2 separate regions of the Homo sapiens genome follow, and region 1 is linked to region 2. The links come from fine-mapping of genetic effects on gene expression. A gene starts in region 2. The other region holds a variant in brackets. All regions are shown on one strand. Distances are between the middles of the regions.

Region 1 (8,316 bases), 34 kb before region 2:
AGTGAGCCAAGATCACACCACTGCACTCCAGCCTGGGTGACAGAGTGAGACCCTGTCTCCAAAAAAAAAAAAAAAAATTGGAAACTGTCCTTTTTGCTTCATTTCCCCGGGGTGACACAGCCCTGAGGACTGGGAGAGAGCCCACTGCGGAGCCCACGGAGCACTGCCTGGGAAGTGGCACTCTCCTGGAGCACTCGCTGCTGGGCTTTCAGAGGTGGCTGCACTGGGCACGCGGTCCCCTCGGCGGCCCTTGCTGGTCCCTTGTGGTCCCCACGTCGCCCCTCGCCGCCCCCCCGCCACCCCTCACCATCCCCCCACGGTCCCTGCACTGCCCCTCACCGCCCCCCCGTGGTTCCCACACTGCCCCTCACGTCCCCTCGAGGTCCCTGCGCCGCCCCTCCCCCTCCCCCCACGGTCCCCGCACTGCCCCTCACGTCCCCTCGAGGTCCCCGCGCCGCCCCTCACCGTCCCCCCGCCGCCCCTCCCCCTCCCCCCACGGTCCCCGCACTGCCCCTCACGTCCCCTCGAGGTCCCTGCGCCGCCCCTCACCGTCCCCCCCCCCGGCCCTCACCGCCCCCCGCGGTCCCCGCACTGCCTCTCACATCCCCTCAAGGCCCCTGCGCCGCCCCTCACCGCCCCTCTCACGGTCCCCATGCCACCCCTCACATCTCCCCGCGGTCCCCGCGCCACCCCTCGCTGTCCTCACATCTATTCACCTCCTGTTTACCACTTGGCTTGTTTCTCTCTTTTCTCTTGATGAGGCAGCAGCTTAAGTATTTAATTCACTTATTTCAAAGAACTAGGTATAAAACATAACGTTTTGCCAACTGCTTATTTTCTAAAGCATTAGTTTCTGTGTTTTCTGCCTTGCTCAGGTCTGGGTAGGTGAGACCACAGTAACGACAAAACTTGCAACGGCCTGACACATACAGTGAGATGGGAGGGCTCAGCTCCCACTTCCCACCCTGCAGAAACCACAGAGGCCAGGGAGGGTCAGGCGGCACAGCACGAGGATTCCAGTGGAACCGGCAGGCTGCCTGCAGGAGCGACACACTGCACAGAAATCCTGGGACTGCAACACTGCAGTGGTTTCCCTAAAGCTACAAGACACTTCCCTCCCCGACAGAGAAAAGGGCAAGAGGCTGCCTGCCTCCCCCTCCTCCTCAGCTCCTTTCTTGCTGGCGCGGGGATCCCCTGCACACCTGTCACTCACCAGCAGCACCCAGGGCCTCCACACCCTCTCCAGTGCAGGGGGTGGGGACTCCTGCTCTGCCCCAGCCCCATAGCGTCCTTCTGCCCTGGGTGGAGGTGACAGGGCTCCAGGGAACAGGTCTGGCACTGGCTGTGAAAGTCAGCAGCTCCTGGCGGCCCCTCCACAGCATCTCCCTTTGATGATGCCGGTGAGCCTGGGCCTCTTCTCACCTCTTCTGGACTCGTGCTCTGTAGCTGGGGGTGCTCGGCCAGCTCACCTGACGCCTGCCCCGCACCCCCTTCTCTCTGCCAGCTCAGGGCTGCCCTCCGGGTTGTCCCCAGACCCCTGTCCAGCTGGTGCACTCTCTTCAGTGTCTGCAACCGGCTGCCACACCCACCTCCTTACTCTTTAATGGAAATGGTTACAGTTTTGTTTCTAGACTGTATTTGGTTCTCTTTTCACACTGGCTCTGTCCTTGTAGGACCCTGTCCTTTCTCCCTTTCGCCTCTTTACCTTGCTATTTTTATCCTGTATCTCATCAATCCAAATTATGTGACTTTCTGCTCTAATGCTCCTTTTTTTGTGTGCTGACGTGTGTGCTTTGTGACTGTAACTGATATTGCTGGTCCTGGGTCCGTGGAGAGCTGCTGGCCCCACACCAGAGCCGAGACCCTGCGCTCCAGGGAAGCGCTGCTTCCCACGGCCACACCCCCCGGCCAGAGCCACTGCCATGCAGCCTGACTGGGACGCAAACATTCAGTAGGACACTGGTCACCCCACCCAGGACACTTCAGCCCGGCCCATTTACACGGCTAACGTCTCAGCTTAAGGGCTTCCCAGTCCAACACAAAGAACAACTTTGAACCCTACAACTACATCAGGACAGACCATGGTTACAAATTCTCAGGAGAGAGGATTTAAAAGAAATTCTAAAAGAAAACAGACTACCTCCCAGGGTGCACAGTGGAAGGTTCCTCATCAGTCACTTTTTGCTGAGGAGGGGCCTTGAAGGGTCTGGTACAGGTGGGCTCTGACCCAGTGCAAAGAAAGGCCTTGTCTGGCCAGGCGCGGTGGTCCATGCCTGTAATCCCAGCACTTTGGGAGGCCGAGGCGGGCGGATCACGAGGTCAGGAGATCCAGACCATCCTGGCTAACATGGTGAAACCCCGTCTCCACTAAAAATACAAAAAATTAGCCAGGCGTGGTGGTGGGCGCCTGTAGTCCCAGCTACTCGGAGAGGCTGAGGCAGGCGAATGGCGTGAACCTGGGAGGCAGAGCTTGCAGTGAGCCGAGATCGCGCCACTGCACTCCAGCCTGGGCAACAGAGCGAGACTCCATCTCAAAAAAAAAGAAAAAAGAAAAAAGAAGAAGAAAGGCCTTGTCTCCCATGTGAAATCAAGGCAGGCAGGTGCCCAGGGGCCACTGGAGAGCTCTAACCTCTCACCTCCCCTCTTGACCTCCGTGGGCCTAGGTTTCTCCTTCTGATTGATCAGAAGGATGCTGGTCAACTCATCAGCATTCCAGGTATTCGGCAGTGGGAAGTTTTTTCAGAATAACAGACCACCATAATGCCACAAGCAGAAGCCCACCCCTGTTGTGTTATTAGGATTTTTTTTTTTTTTTTTGAGACAGAGTCTTGCTCTGTCACCCAGGCTGGAGTTCAGTAGCTTGATCTTGGTTCACTGCAGCCTCGACTTCCCAGGGTCAAGCAATCCTCCTGCCTCAGCCTTCCAAGGAGCTGGAATACAGGCATGTGCTACCATACCTGGCAAATTTTTAAAAATATTTTTTCTAACGATGGGGTCTCACCATGCTGCCCAGCCTGGTTTCGAATTCCTGGGCTCAAGTGATCCTCCCATTTTGGCCTCCCAAAGTACTGGGATTACAGGCGTAAGCTACCATGCCCAGCTAGTTTTGATTTGTTTGTTTTGAGACAGAGTCTCACTCTGTCACCCGGGCTGGAGTACAGTGGTGCAATCTTGGCTCACTGCAGCCTCCGCCTCCGAGGTTCAAGCAATCCTCCTGTCTCATCCACAGTATCAGGGATTACAGACATGCGCCACCACACCCGGCTAATTTTTTTGTATTTTTAGTAGAGACGGGGTTTTGCCATGTTGGCCAGACTGGTCTTGAACTCCTGACCTCAAGTGATCAGCCCGCTTCGGCTTTCCAAAGTGCTGGGATTACAGGCATGAGCCACCGCACCCGGCCACTAGGGCATGCCTTTGCGTCATCTCTTGACCTCCCATCTCTGTCCATTCTTTCTAGGGTGCCTCTGATTGGAATGCTGGCTTCAGGGTTCAGCCTGCTAGTTCATTCTTCTCTTTCTCTCCTACTTTCCATATTTTTGCCTTTTTCCTCTATTTTCTGGAAATTTCCACAACTTTCTCTTCCAATTCTTCTATTATTTTTCCCATTTCTATTATGGCATCTTTAATT[C/T]ACAGAAGGTCAGTTTTATTCTCTCAATGTGGCTTCTCCATGGTGACACCTCTTGTCCCGTGAATGCATGATGCCCACTTATTTTCCTGAGGATATTAATCAGAGATTTTCTTTCTCTGTTATTTTCTTCTCCCTGAACCATCTACATCTCCAATTAGTGTCTGTTTCTTTTGTTGCCACCTTTCCTACTGGAGGGGTTCCTTGGCCGGGAGGAATTACTGGATGCCTGCCCTGCTGGACGGCGTGGCCAGGCCAGCCGTGCCTCCACCACTGGGAGTCTTCCCTGAGGCTCCTCGCCTCCTGGCTGCAGTGCCCTGAGGGCACTCCTGTCCTTGGCACACTGCCTGTCCTGGCTGGACCTGCACCCTCCCGCAGTGGACGCAGGCCTGCCACCGCCCCCACCACTAGGCCTCACCCGGTTGATACGGCTTCCTCTGGCCCCAGGCTGCTCCAGCCAGCAGGACCACCAACCCCTCCAGATGCAAACAGGGAACGTTCCATTTGTGGTGGGGAGCACACGTCCCACACGAGGAGGTCCCATGGAATCTTCGCTGGCTGAACCCATGTGTTTGACACATGGAGGAAAATGCCAGCATGGTAGGGCCCAGAGGAGCCGCAGGTCCCCTATGAAGGGGAAGGTAAGCAAGAGGTGTCAGAACTGCAAGTCCGTTTCTGCTTAGAGCCTCAGCAGCTGCAGGGATCAGGCCACTTCCCAGAGGAGTGGCGGGAAGGGGCGATGTGCGTGCAGCACAGAGACAGGCGCCCCAGCGGCCCCGTTCTGTCTCCGCCCTGCAGCCTGGATGGCACGTCCTGCGCCCCAGGCACCTTAGCTGAGTCCACACCCACACCCACTTCCACTCTCTGCTCCTTCACACCTGGCTCAGTATGCAGCTGCCCCCATCCTGTCACCAATCCCATTTTTAGCCAAAACTGGGTCACATGGAGTTACTATCCCTTCTACCCAAGGGGCCCTGCCCTCATCCACAGGTGAGAAAGAGCCTGTGAAGGAGTGCCCCAAAGATGAAGGCATTTATCAAAGAGCAGGGCCAGGAGAGACGGAGCGCAAGGGCTGAGGAGAGGGTGGCAGGAGCCCTGTGATCTGAACCCAAAGTCACCAGGAGCAGAGCAGGTGGGTCCAAATGCTCCAAACCAACCCTGCAGTCTACAGAGCCCAGCCCAGCCCTGTAACCACTCCCTCCATGCTTCGAAAACATGCCCTGCCCGGGCCCCACCAGGCCCCTCCCCCATCACCGGCCCCTCCCCCATCACCGGGCCCCTCCCCCATCACTGGGTCCTCCCACACCTGCTGCCTGGAACTAACGGCCCCCGGCCCCAGAGGGCTGGCTCTTTACGAGGGCTGGTCCCCTGGGCACGAGGGTCCTGTTCTCCTCCCGGCCAGCTACCAGGGCTGGCCGTCTTCCTGACATGGGACACCGGGAGCACGAGGCCGTGGGCTGTGAGGGCACTAAGGGTAGCTCAGGATCTCTAATCTCCACACCCCCTTCTAACAGAAATGCCCTCCAATCCCACCAACCACTCCCCCACTGTCAGTGGCAGGGGAAACCAAGGTCCAGGCCCATGACATGCCCGCAGTCCCCTGCCAGGCACACAGAGGGCTGTGGGCAGTGCTGCCAGGAATGGGGCTCCTGGCAGAGGGTGGGGGTGAATGAATGTGCCCCCATCCCCTGGGTCCTGGGATGCCCAGAGAGCGGACACTTTTCTAGCCTGGAGTGGGGAGGAAAACAAAAAGTCATGGCTTCGAGGAAGTCTCTTCCTACCCCCCAGGCACGTCCAGCCCTCAGTGGACCCACAATGTAAGGTGGGGGGCTCTCCAGGAGTAGAGAGAAACAAGAGACAGAGGCTGTGTCAGCCCCACATGGGCCCCCCAACCAGCCAGCAGCCTCAGCCAGGGGGCCCCTCCCTCCAACAGCCCCCCTTCCTGCAGCCTAAAGTGCCCACCTGTCCCCCCTAAAACAGGCATGCCCGGGAACAGCCCCCCACAAAGGGGCACTTGAGACAGAAGGTGACGAGGCCGCCTCTTACCGGAGCAGAAGGCCACGCGCACCGTGTCCTGCTTGGCCACGCCCAGCACGGGCAGCAGGGAGCTCAGGACGGATGGCAGGAAGGGGACTACGCCGAACGCTGTGAGAGAGGACACCGTCAAAGGCCTCCGCCAAGGCTTCCAGCGCCCCGTGCTCCTCCTGGGGCAGGCCGCGCGTCACCTACCGTTGGCCACCGAGAGGCTGGCGAGGGTGTGCAGCACGGCGCAGTGTGGCAGGGTCCCAGGGTGCAGCCTGCGCAGCAGCTCCTCCATCACCTTGCTGATGAACTGTCTTCCCACGGCCACCAGGACGCCACTCGCCGCCTGCTGCCAGTCCCAGACCAGGTCCTGAACCCAAAACACCGGCAGGTAGACCAAAAGGCAAGACCAAGACATTCTGCCCTCAGTCGCTGCCAGCCTTGGACAAGCGCACGCTGTTTTCAGCGTCCCCAGAAAGTGCAGGTCAGGGAAGGTGGCGGGCACAGCCTCCTCTGCTGAGGGGCTGCTGAGGAGACCCCACACGCAGGAGCAGCAGAGCCCTGGTGAGAGGTGAGGGGCTGCTGAGGAGACCCCACACGCAGGAGCAGCAGAGCCCTGGTGAGAGGGGGCTGCACTCAGTGCCCTGAGAGTTAGGCCCACCAGAGCCCTGCACCAACCCCAATGCCGGGCACAGCCTTTGGCCCCAGCTGCACGCACACCACGGTCCTGCGTGTGCTGAGTTCTGGCAACTTGCTCTCTGCTTCAGTTGCTGCCTCTGAAAATCACAGGGGACCACCCCCCACCCCTGCAGGGTGATGCATGAGACCGAAGGGCATCTGCCAGCCCAAGGCAGCCAAACACCACCCTATACTCTCAAGGCTGCTGGGTAGAAAGGCCAAGAAGCAGCTTCCCTTCCCAAGCTAGGCCTGAGTCTGCGAGGCCAGAGGGCCTGCTGAATACCTTCGTCTTGGTCATCTCGCTGGAGGCCAGGAGGATGATGGTGCTGGCTGTGTCCTTGTCCAGCTCACTGGCGCGACTGCTCAGGACCCTCTCCATGGCCCTCAGGACCGCTGCTCGGTATGGGTGTGCCAGCTGCGGAGAGACACCGTCCAGGTCGGTCCCAGGTGAGCCCCACACCCAGACACTCTGAGTGCCTGTCACTGTCTCTACAAGATGAAACCGCACAAATCTCTCTGCCTCAAGTGCAGGAGGGGAGGGGTACACCTGATCACTCCTCACGCCCTAAAAGCCGGCCTGCAAGCCTCACACTCACGGCCCATCTCCAGAAGGGTGGAGCGTTATCCTGCGCCAGACAACCAACATGCAGAGGGCGAGGCGGGGGGCTTCTCTCCTCCAGGGGTAGTCAGTAGGGTCTCCCAGTCACATGACACTCCCAGGACCCTTCCACCTCCTTGCCCTGCCCTCCCCTGTCAGAGGAGGAGCACACTCCTGTCCCCAGCTCAGTGGTCATGGCCTCAGTCTCTGCCGCTAGGCTAGTGCTTGTATCCAACGGCCCCTCCCCAAGGCTGCTAAGGAAAAACGCCACCCACCACACCACCTTCTGCCACGCCCCCAAGCCACCTCCACCTCCCAGGTTAACCCTCCGCAGAGTCCAACCACCTGCCTTCATCCTCCCCCTAAGCAGCTCTCCTGTCGACCACCACCTCCACTGTAAATCCAAAGAGCACACACTGTCCTTGCCTCAACTGGGGACACACCAAGGACTGGGACTGAAAGCTGGGACCCGCGGGGGCACACAGCAGAGTAGGCTACTGCCCAACCCAGGAAAGGAACCTGGGGCACCCAGCCACCCTGTGTTGACAGCCCCTCCCCAATGATGCACCCACCATGGCCCCTCCCTCCACCACCCTGAGAGCAGCCTGCACCAGGCAACATGGCCGGCACAGGGCGGCCCAGAGGCCCACAGGCTCTGTCGTCCATTCTCACATGGCTATAAAGAGGTGACCTGCAAAAACCCGAACAGGCGCGGTGGCTCACGCCTGTAATCTCAACACTTAGGGAGGCCGAGGCGGGCGGATCACCTGATGTCAGGGGTTCAAGACCAGCCTGGCCAACATGGTGAAACCCTGTCTCTACTAAAAAAAAAAAAGTACAGGCCGTGCGTGGTGGCTCACGCCTGTAATCTCAACACTTAGGGAGGCTGAGGCGGGCGGATCACCTGATGTCAGGGGTTCGAGACCAGCCTGGCCAATATGGTGAAACCCCGTCTCTACTAAAAATACAAAAATTAGCCGTGTGTGGTGGCGCACACCTGTAGTCCCAGCTACTCGGGAGGCTGAGGCAGAAGAATCGCTTGAACCCGGGAGGCAGAGGTTGCAGAGCCGAGATCGCGCCACTGCACTCCAGCCTGGGCCACGGAGCAAGACTCTGTCTCAAAAAAAAAACACAAAAAACAAAAATTACCCAGTCACAGTGGCCGGCACCTGTAATCCCAGCTACTTGGGAGGCTGAGGCAGGAGAAAAGCTTGAACCCGGGAGGTGGAGGTTGCAGTGAGCCGAGATCACACCACTCCAGCCTGGGCGACAGAGCAAGACTGTCTCAAAGAAAAAAAAAAAAAGAAGAAGAAATACCGGAGACTGGGTAACTTACAAAGAAAAAAGGTCTAATTAGCTCAAAGTTGCAGGCTGTACAGGAAGCATGGCT
Region 2 (8,316 bases):
ATATTAACATAGTAGTCCCCTCTTATCCTGTTTTACTTTCCTTGGTTTCAGTTACCCACAATCAAACATAGTCCAAAAATATTAAATAGAAAAATTCCAGAAATGAACTCATGTTTTAAATTGCAGGCTGTCTTGAGTATTGTCATAAACTGTTCTATTTTATTATTCATTGCTGTCAACCTCTTATTGTGCTTCATTTATAGTTAAACTTTATCATAGGTATATAGGTATGAGACATATCCCTGTGGACAGGGAAGGACTACTGTATGCAAAGGAGCTTGTGCACATCCCTGAGATAAACAGGAAAGAGAGCAAAGGACGTGCAAGAATTCTCAGAAGAGAGAGAGATCGCCGGCAGACATATGGGGACTGTGCTGACTGCCCCTAGGTTGAACAGAGACACTCAGCCACCCTTCCAGAGCCGACGGCAGTGCAGCACGGTGCTGCGGAAAGGTCCCCTTGTCCCCGTCGCAGGGCGTGTGACGTTGGTGCGAATTGCTTCTTCAGTGCCCCGCTGCCCAAACCTCTAGGGGGAGCACAGAGACGGGAGGCTGTATCTAGGGATGAATGTTTACACCTGAAGCCCCAGTGGGCGTGTGTTCCAGGGTGCTCTTTTAGTTTGCCGTCTATAGGCAGCTTGTGCTAAACAGCTCAATTAGACCCTCTACTTGTCGCAAGGACAGAGGGCTTTTTGTATCCCGGGTTCTTGCCCTTTGGTGTACCGGCAGAGTCGGATCACACCTGGGCTTGGAGAATGAGTGTAAAGTTCTATTGAGTGGAAGCAGCTCTCAGCCAATGGGGGAGCCAGAAAGGAGATGGTCTTCCTCTGGAGTTGGGCTGCTTGGTGGCCCCAGCTCTCCTCCGACTGCCCTGGCCAAACTCCACCTTGTCCAGCCAGTCGATGGCCTGCCAGAGTGCTGGCATCTGTTGGTGTGTTCTTCCACTGGCGTGTTCCCCTCGAGGTCCAGTTGCTTGTGTCTTCTTCCGCCAATCTGCTCCTCTCTATGTCCAGCTGCCTGTGTCCCTGCCTTGCTAGCATCTTGGAGGTTTTTTTTTTTTTTTTTTTTTTTTTTTGAGACAGAATATTGCTCTGTCACCCAGGCTGGAATGCAATGGCGCAATCTCGGCTCACTGTAACCTCCGCCTCCCAGGTTCAAGCGATTCTCCTGCCTTGGCCTCCTGAGTAGGTGGGATTACAGGCGCCCACCGCCACACTCGACGAATTTTTGTATTTTTAGTGGAGACGGGGTTTCACCATGTTGGCCAGGCTGGTCTCGAACTCCTGACCTCAAGTGATCCGCCTGCCTGGGCCTCCCAAAGTGCTGGGATTACAGGCGTGAGCCATCACGCCTGGCCTGGGTCTCAGGTTTATATAGGCACAGGAGCTATGTATGGCAGGCCAGGGTGGTCTTGGGAAATGTAACATTTGGGCAGGAAGGCAGGAGTGCCTGTCCTCATCTAGGTCCATGGTGGTGGAGCCCTAGCCAGGGACCATGCTCTACTCTACCCAGCACTTCCCTTCCCCTATTCCATAAGGGACCACACTCTTCTCTTCCCAGCCCTCCTGCATCAGTGGCTGGATAAGGGCTCAGTGGCAGAGCCAGTAAGCCATGAGCAGGCATGGAAAATCCCTGTGCCCTGTCCCACCACCTACAAATGGTGACGATCAGTGATGACTAGCTCCTCTATTTGTAGGCTACATGGCAAAAAGTGTCACCAGTCAAAGGCTTGCAGTGAGGCCAGCACACAGTTGAACACCAAGAGCATCTGACGTGCTGAGGACAGGGGCTACTCGGTGCTGGTGCCAGTAGCAGAACCTGAAGAACGGCCCCAACAAGCCTCAGTGGCTAAACATCCACTTTTCCACATCTATCTACAGATGCCCTCGTACTAGTACACACACATGTATATAATGGGGATGTCAGAAAAAAACACAAATGCCAATCAGGGCTCTGGTTAAATTAACAAAAAGCAAACGAATGGGAGAAGGTGGCAGGCAGGGTTGATAGGGTCTTCTCTCCCTACATAGCACACATTTCTGTGTGAATGAAAGAGCTGCTTCCTTTTCATTTAATTCAACCACATTTAGTAAACACCCGCCAGTCACCATCCCAGGCCCAGAGTTCCTGTCTTGAAAGCCCTCCGGCCACAAAAAGTATATGGCTGCCACACCTGTGCCCACAACAGAGGTGCTGCACTGGGTCCAAAAGGGTTAGGAGGGGGTGTGCGAGGCTGTGCAGGCCACAGGAATCAATAGCCCAGAAGCAGTGGTGAGCCAGCCTGCAGGGCTGGGTGTGTGCAGGGAGACTGGGAGGTCACAGAATGCCCCACCCACGCGTCAGGTCCAAGGAACCTTCTCTCCCAGCACAGCAGCCACAGAATCAACTTCCAAAGTCACCAATAAGGCTGATGACCCTGGGAAATGCAATCCCACAGCCCACTGCTCACAGTCCACCGAGAACATGGTTCCTCAATACAGGCCACACCAAGCTGTGTCACTGGTGCTCATGCAAACCCCCAAAACCAGGTGGCCCCTCAAGCTCAGTGAAGAAAGCACATTTCTCATGATGGGCAGCAGTCCATGTTCTCTGCACACTGGCTAGGAGCTCCCAAGAGCCACGGGAGCCTTTCCTGGTGCTCCTACCCCAAAGAAACCAAGCTGGGTGGACCGGCACAGACAGAGGATCTCTACCCCAAATAACCCAGCTCTGTGAAAGGGGGGCTACGAGACAGAGGGCAGCAACCAGGCTTCTCTCCTGGGCCTCTGTGGACCCTGGGAAAGAAAACTAAGCACCAGCACCTGTTTCCTGACACAGGAGACAGCCACGAACTCAGGCAAGCACATGCCCCACAGCCTCCACCTCTGACCCCCTGGTGTCCCTCAGCAGTCAGCAATCAACCCCAGCCAGTGGGAAATGACGAGGTGCAGGTCTCCACAAGCCACAGCGGCCTGCACGTCAGTTTCAAGTTAACAAAAACACCTTAGCCTCAGGTCATTCCACTCTGACATCAAAGAGAGACCAGAGACACCTGTTCACGGGGACCCTGAGAGCCTGAGACTGAGCACTGAAGATCCTGCTGACGGCAGCACCCTAGGGTGCCCAGACTGTCCATGCAGCCACGTCACAAACACGTACCACCTATGAAACATGCCGCAAACAACGATTCCCACACGCATCTCCAGCCCTCGCCTCGCCGGGACCCGAGGTCTTCGGGACATCTCCATCCATGGTCATCGCACTGAGACCCAACAGCTCTAAACTCAACTCACCACCCTCACCTGACTTATCACCGGCCCTACCCTGCCTGCCTCTTACCGCATCGTGTGCGTTCACCACCATCCCCTTCCAAAGTGGTCCCTGCCTACAGGGCTGTCCCCGACCCAACTCTGCTCACATCCCTAAGTTCGGCCACACCCCCGTACCCCTTTTCTGCTTACCTCACTGCACTTGAGTTTATGAGTCTGTCCCTTCCCCAACTGAGCAGGCAAAGGAGCCCCTCCCCAGAGTGTGTAGGACCGAGCCACCAGCGCCCGCAGAGTGGTTTCCTCTGACCCTCACACTGCAGCTGCACTGACGCTGCCCGAAAATCCGACCCCCTAAGTCTCACCTTGGCTGAGTGAGGGCTGGCTCCCGGCGGCCCTGCCAGCGCTATGCCCGGCACGCTATGACCAGTCATCCTCGTGACTAGGGACAAATCACCTTCCTGCTCGCGATCGTCAGAGAATACGGAAGGCATACGGAGGCCCGGGGCACGCCGGCTTTGCAGGCTCCGGGCGTATGCTTGGCTTCCCGGAGAGAGGACCCCCGGTGGCCCCGCCTGGGGGGAGAAGGGCCGGGGACCACCGCGCTCCCGGGGAGGGCCGGGCACTGGGGACCACCGGGCTCACAGGAGGGGCGGGCACCGGGGACCACCGGGCTCCCGCGGAGGGGCGGGCACCGGGGACCACCAAGCTCCCCGAAGAGGGGTGGTCGCGCGGCCGAGACGACTTAGCGGCGCAGAGGAGGAGCACAGCCGCACAGCTCCGGCCTCTCTTCCGGGCTGTGGCGCGGCGCACACCTGAGCCGAGGTCCCCGCGACACCCAGGACCCTCCCAGCGTTCGCCCTGTGACCTTGGGGAGGCGCCTCCTGACTCGGCTTCCTCCGCGGCCCCGCCAAGGGAGCCGCCCCAGGCTCTTCAGCCCAGACTTCCCCGAGGGGCTCTTCCCCAGCGCCGCCGAAGGCTCATCCCCACCCGCCGTTTACCTGAGGAGCCGCCGCCACCTCGGCCGGGGCGCCGCCTTCCCGCCCAGCAGGGGCCCGGAGTGGGCGGAGCCGCGCGCGCCGAGCCCGCCCCCGCTGCCTTCTGGCCACCCGCAGCCTGGAGCGCGGCAGCAGGTCCCCGCCCCCGAGCGATCTCTGCACTTATTGGTCGGGGGCACGTCTCTCACGCTCGCTCCACCCCGCCCACCTTCATTTGCAAAGCAGCAGTGCGCAGACTCCGCCTCACGCTCGGCCCCGCCCGTCTGTTGAGCGACAGTTCGGCCGCCACGGCGCAGGCGCGGCCTTCAGGCTCGCGACAGCTACGCCAGCCCCGGGGTGCTGCAGTCCCCGTGTCCCCGTCGGACGCATACAGCCCTGACGACCTCCGCTCCCAGACGCCGGGGACGCGGGCTCGGCGCGGCGTTGCGGCCGCTCGCAAGCACACGCCCGCCCTGGACTCGCGCGGCCCGCCCGCCCTCTGTCTGCCCCGGAAGCGCCAGCTGGAGGCCGCGGCACCCGGAGGGGGGCAGGACTCGCAGGGCCCTGCGCTCGTTGGGAAAGAGGCGACCAGCGGGGTCCCGGGAACTCGGGACGCGATAAGAGCGATGTGAGGAAGGAAAGCGCCCGCCGCGCGTCCAGGCTGGGCGTCGGCAGAGGCGGAGGCGGCGGGAGCAGCGCGGGCAGGATGTCCACTCCTGGCCGGAGGGACTGGGCTCCCGCTGTGGGGACGGCGCCCGGGAGAGCGCAGTACCCTTTGCGGATGCGGGCGCGGCCCCTGCGGCGGCTTCCCACGCGCCTGTGGCCTTGTCCCCTCCCGGTCTCGGTGCCGCCCCCGCCTCACGCACACCAGCTGCCGCGCGCAGCACAGCCCCACTTTCACTCCGATCACAAACGAACGCCAGCCCCTCCGCCAGGGGCAGGCCTGAGTCTGTATTTTGCTCCCGAGGGCTGCTTACAAAGCCCCGCACGGGACGGCTGCCCAATGAAGCCCCGGGAATGGACTCAGGTGCAGGCAACGACGCGGATAATCGAGACTGCAAAGGGAGGGTGGACAGAGCCAATGGCCGTTCTGATCCTGCAGTCATCACTTGGCTTGACACTCGCGGGCTTCCAGCTGTGTCCTGCCACTGGTGGGAGCGGAGGTGTGCCGCAGGGGCCGCAGGCTCCCAGGCTCCGCAGCAGAGCCCAGAGGCTCAGCCACCCTGGGTCGGGACCACCTGGCTCCGGTTCTAGAGTGGCCGCTTCTTGCAGCCCCCACCTTCGACGAACTCCACCCTGCCCCCGTGCCTCTCAAGCCCTTCTGACACTTAAGCAACCAATCCCACCTGCTTAAATTGCCTGGCGCAGTTTCTATTTTTTTCCTAATGAAGGGGTGGCCTGCCCCTCCACACCTGTGGGTATTTCTAGTCGGGTGGGACGAGAGACTGAGAAAAGAAATAAGACACAGAGACAAAGTATAGAGAAACAACAGTGGGCCCAGGGGACCAGCACTCAGCACACCAAGGACCTGCACCAGCACCGGCCTCTGAGTTCCCTCAGTTTTTATTATTATTTTCATTATTTCAGCAAAAAGGAATGTTGTAGGAGAGCAGGGTGATGAGAAGGTCAGCAAAAAACGTGAGCAAAAGCATCTATGTCATAATTAAGTTCAAGGGAAGGTACTATGACTGGACGTGCACTTAAGCCAGATTTATGTTTCTCTCCACCCAAACATCTCAGTGGAGTAAAGAATAACAAAGCAGCATTACTGCAAACATGTCTCACCTCCCACCATAGGGCGGTTTTTCTCCTAGCTCAGAACTGAATGTACAATCGGGTTTTATACCAAGACATTCAGTTTCCAGGGGCAGGCAGGAGACAGTGGCCTTCCTCTAACTCAACTGCAAGAGGCTTTCCTCTTTTACTAATCCACCTCAGCACAGACCCTTTACGGGTGTCAGTTTGGGGGACAGTCAGGTCTTTCTCATCCCACGAGGCCATATTTCAGACTATCACATGGGGAGAAACCTTGGACAATACCCTGCTTTCAAGGGCAGAGGTCCCTGTGGCTTTCCACAGTGCATTGTGCCCCTGGTTTATCGAGACTAGAGAATGGTGATGACTTTTACCAAGTATACTGCTTGTAAACATTTTGTTAATAAAGCACGTCCTGCACAGCCCTAGATCCCTTAAACCTTGATTTCATACAACACACGTTTTTGTGAGCTCCAGGTTGGATCAAAGTGGCTGGGGCAAAGCTACAAATTAACAACATCTCAGCAACGCAATTGTTTAAAGTACAGGTCTTTTTCAAAATGGAGTCTCTTATGTCTTCCCTTTCTACATAGACACAGGGACAGTCTGATCTGTCTTTCTTTTCCCTACACCTAACCCCCAGGTCAACCACAAACCAGTTTGTTTCTTCTGAGGTCTAACTGTCCCCTAGGCTGGAGTGCAGTGGCGCGATCTCGGCTCACTGCAACCTCTGCCTCCCGGGTTCACGCCATTCTTCCGCCTCAGCCTCCCGACTGGCTGGGACTACAGGTGCCTGCCACCATGCCCGGCTAATTTTTTTTTTTTGTATTTTTTGTAGAGACAGGGTTTCACCGTGTTAACCAGGATGGTCTCTATCTCCTGACCTCGTGATCTGCCCGTCTTGGCCTCCCAAAGTGCTGGGATTAAAGGCATGAGCCACCGCGCCCGGCCCAAGCTGGGTTTTATTGTTGAAATGAGGCCTCTCACTGTTACCCAGGCTGGAGTGCAGTGGCACAATCATAGCTCACAGCAGCCTTAAATTCCTGCGCTCAAGTGATCCTCTCGCCTCAGCCTCCCAAATAGCTGGGATTGCAAGTGGGAACCACCAAGTCTGGCTAATTTTTAAATTTTGTTGCAGAGACAAGGTCTCACTATGTTACCCAGGCTGGTCTGCAACTCCTGGCCTCAAGAGATCCTCCTGCCTTGGTCACCCAAAGTGCTGGGATTACAGGCATAAGCCACTACACCCAGACCTTGTCCTTATTTTCTGTATCCCAGGCAATTTGCCAAACAAGGCCTGAGGGTGAGCAAAGGAATATCAAACACATGCTTTGCTCTCAAGAAGCTCGTGGTCCAAAAGGGATGAGAAAGTGTGTTTTTCCAGTTCAAGCCAGCCCATTCTGGGGCCTTTTCTGCAGCAAACATGCCAAGTGCACCCACAGATCTTGGTGGAGACCCCAATTCCCCAGACTCACTGGTCTGTACCAAGCACCAGACCCTTGCAGACATTCCCAGGATGGCTGCCCATCAGGCAGCCCTGCCCTCCAGGCCCACAGCCACTGTGCTGTCTAGCTCACAGCAGAGATGACACATTTGGGTTGGGCTTCCCCACCATGGCGGCTCAATTTCATCATCTGTAAAGCGAGGATTGCTTGGTTGTGTTAGGACTTGAGATCCCAGATGTGAACTGCCCCCACAGGCTGGGCTCCTGAATGTCTTCTGTGAACGGGGGCAGGACTGCTACAGGTGGTAGTGGTAGCTGGTGCGACTGCCCAGAATGGCACCCGGCACAGAGCTGGCACTCAAACGTTAGCAGTAATAGTGCCCACAGGGCACTCTGGGGTCCAGAAGGGAGGGGCAAGGTTGGCTTCTGTCTCTTGGAACTGTAGGATCAGAGGTAGGCTCAGGAGTGGGGCCCTTGCTTGCCCTGGGGTGTGTGGTCAAGTCTGCAGAGGTCTCTAGGTGGGACGCTTCCTGCACCTTGCTGGCCTGGGCAGGAGGTGCTTCAGGCTCCAGTGGAGAAGGCCGGGAGACAGAGCTCCTGCCTGCCTTCCTCTGGCTCAGCCCACCTTAGGGCCCAGCTGAGTGTGGCCATGGCATCCTCTCGAAGGAGGGGGTGCAGTTGAAATGGTGGTTGACACGTATGTGTCCCTTTTCCTGTCCTTATGCCCCAGAAATCCCCACCCTCATTTCTTTAACAGCTTTCTGTGGCCAGCCACGTCCATAGGGGTCCACAGAGGCCTCACCCTGGCTGCAGCCCTTGAAATGGGTTTTCACCTCACAGAGAGTGGGCCCCATGTGGGCAGGACTGGTCCCACAAGATGTCCTCAGAGTGGGCAG

The links.
Region 1: its variant is fine-mapped to the expression of MROH1 in esophagus mucosa (GTEx, PIP 0.95).

What each region holds. Positions count from the first base shown.
Region 1 is chr8:144,177,882-144,186,197 of GRCh38, reverse strand. It overlaps MROH1 (maestro heat like repeat family member 1), which reads right to left. Exons shown (of 44, transcript NM_032450.3): 5 at 6,612-6,743; 6 at 5,858-6,020; 7 at 5,675-5,773. Among named protein-coding and RNA genes, the nearest start is that of MROH1, 34 kb to the right of the region's middle. RefSeq lists silencers at 870-919, 3,961-4,133 and enhancers at 1,265-1,808, 4,939-5,656, 7,196-8,009. The variant C/T (reference allele first, on the strand shown) is at 3,632.
Region 2 is chr8:144,144,006-144,152,321 of GRCh38, reverse strand. MROH1 (maestro heat like repeat family member 1) reads right to left here and starts at 4,306. Exons shown (of 44, transcript NM_032450.3): 1 at 4,246-4,306. RefSeq lists silencers at 4,075-4,454, 4,625-4,824, 4,945-5,034.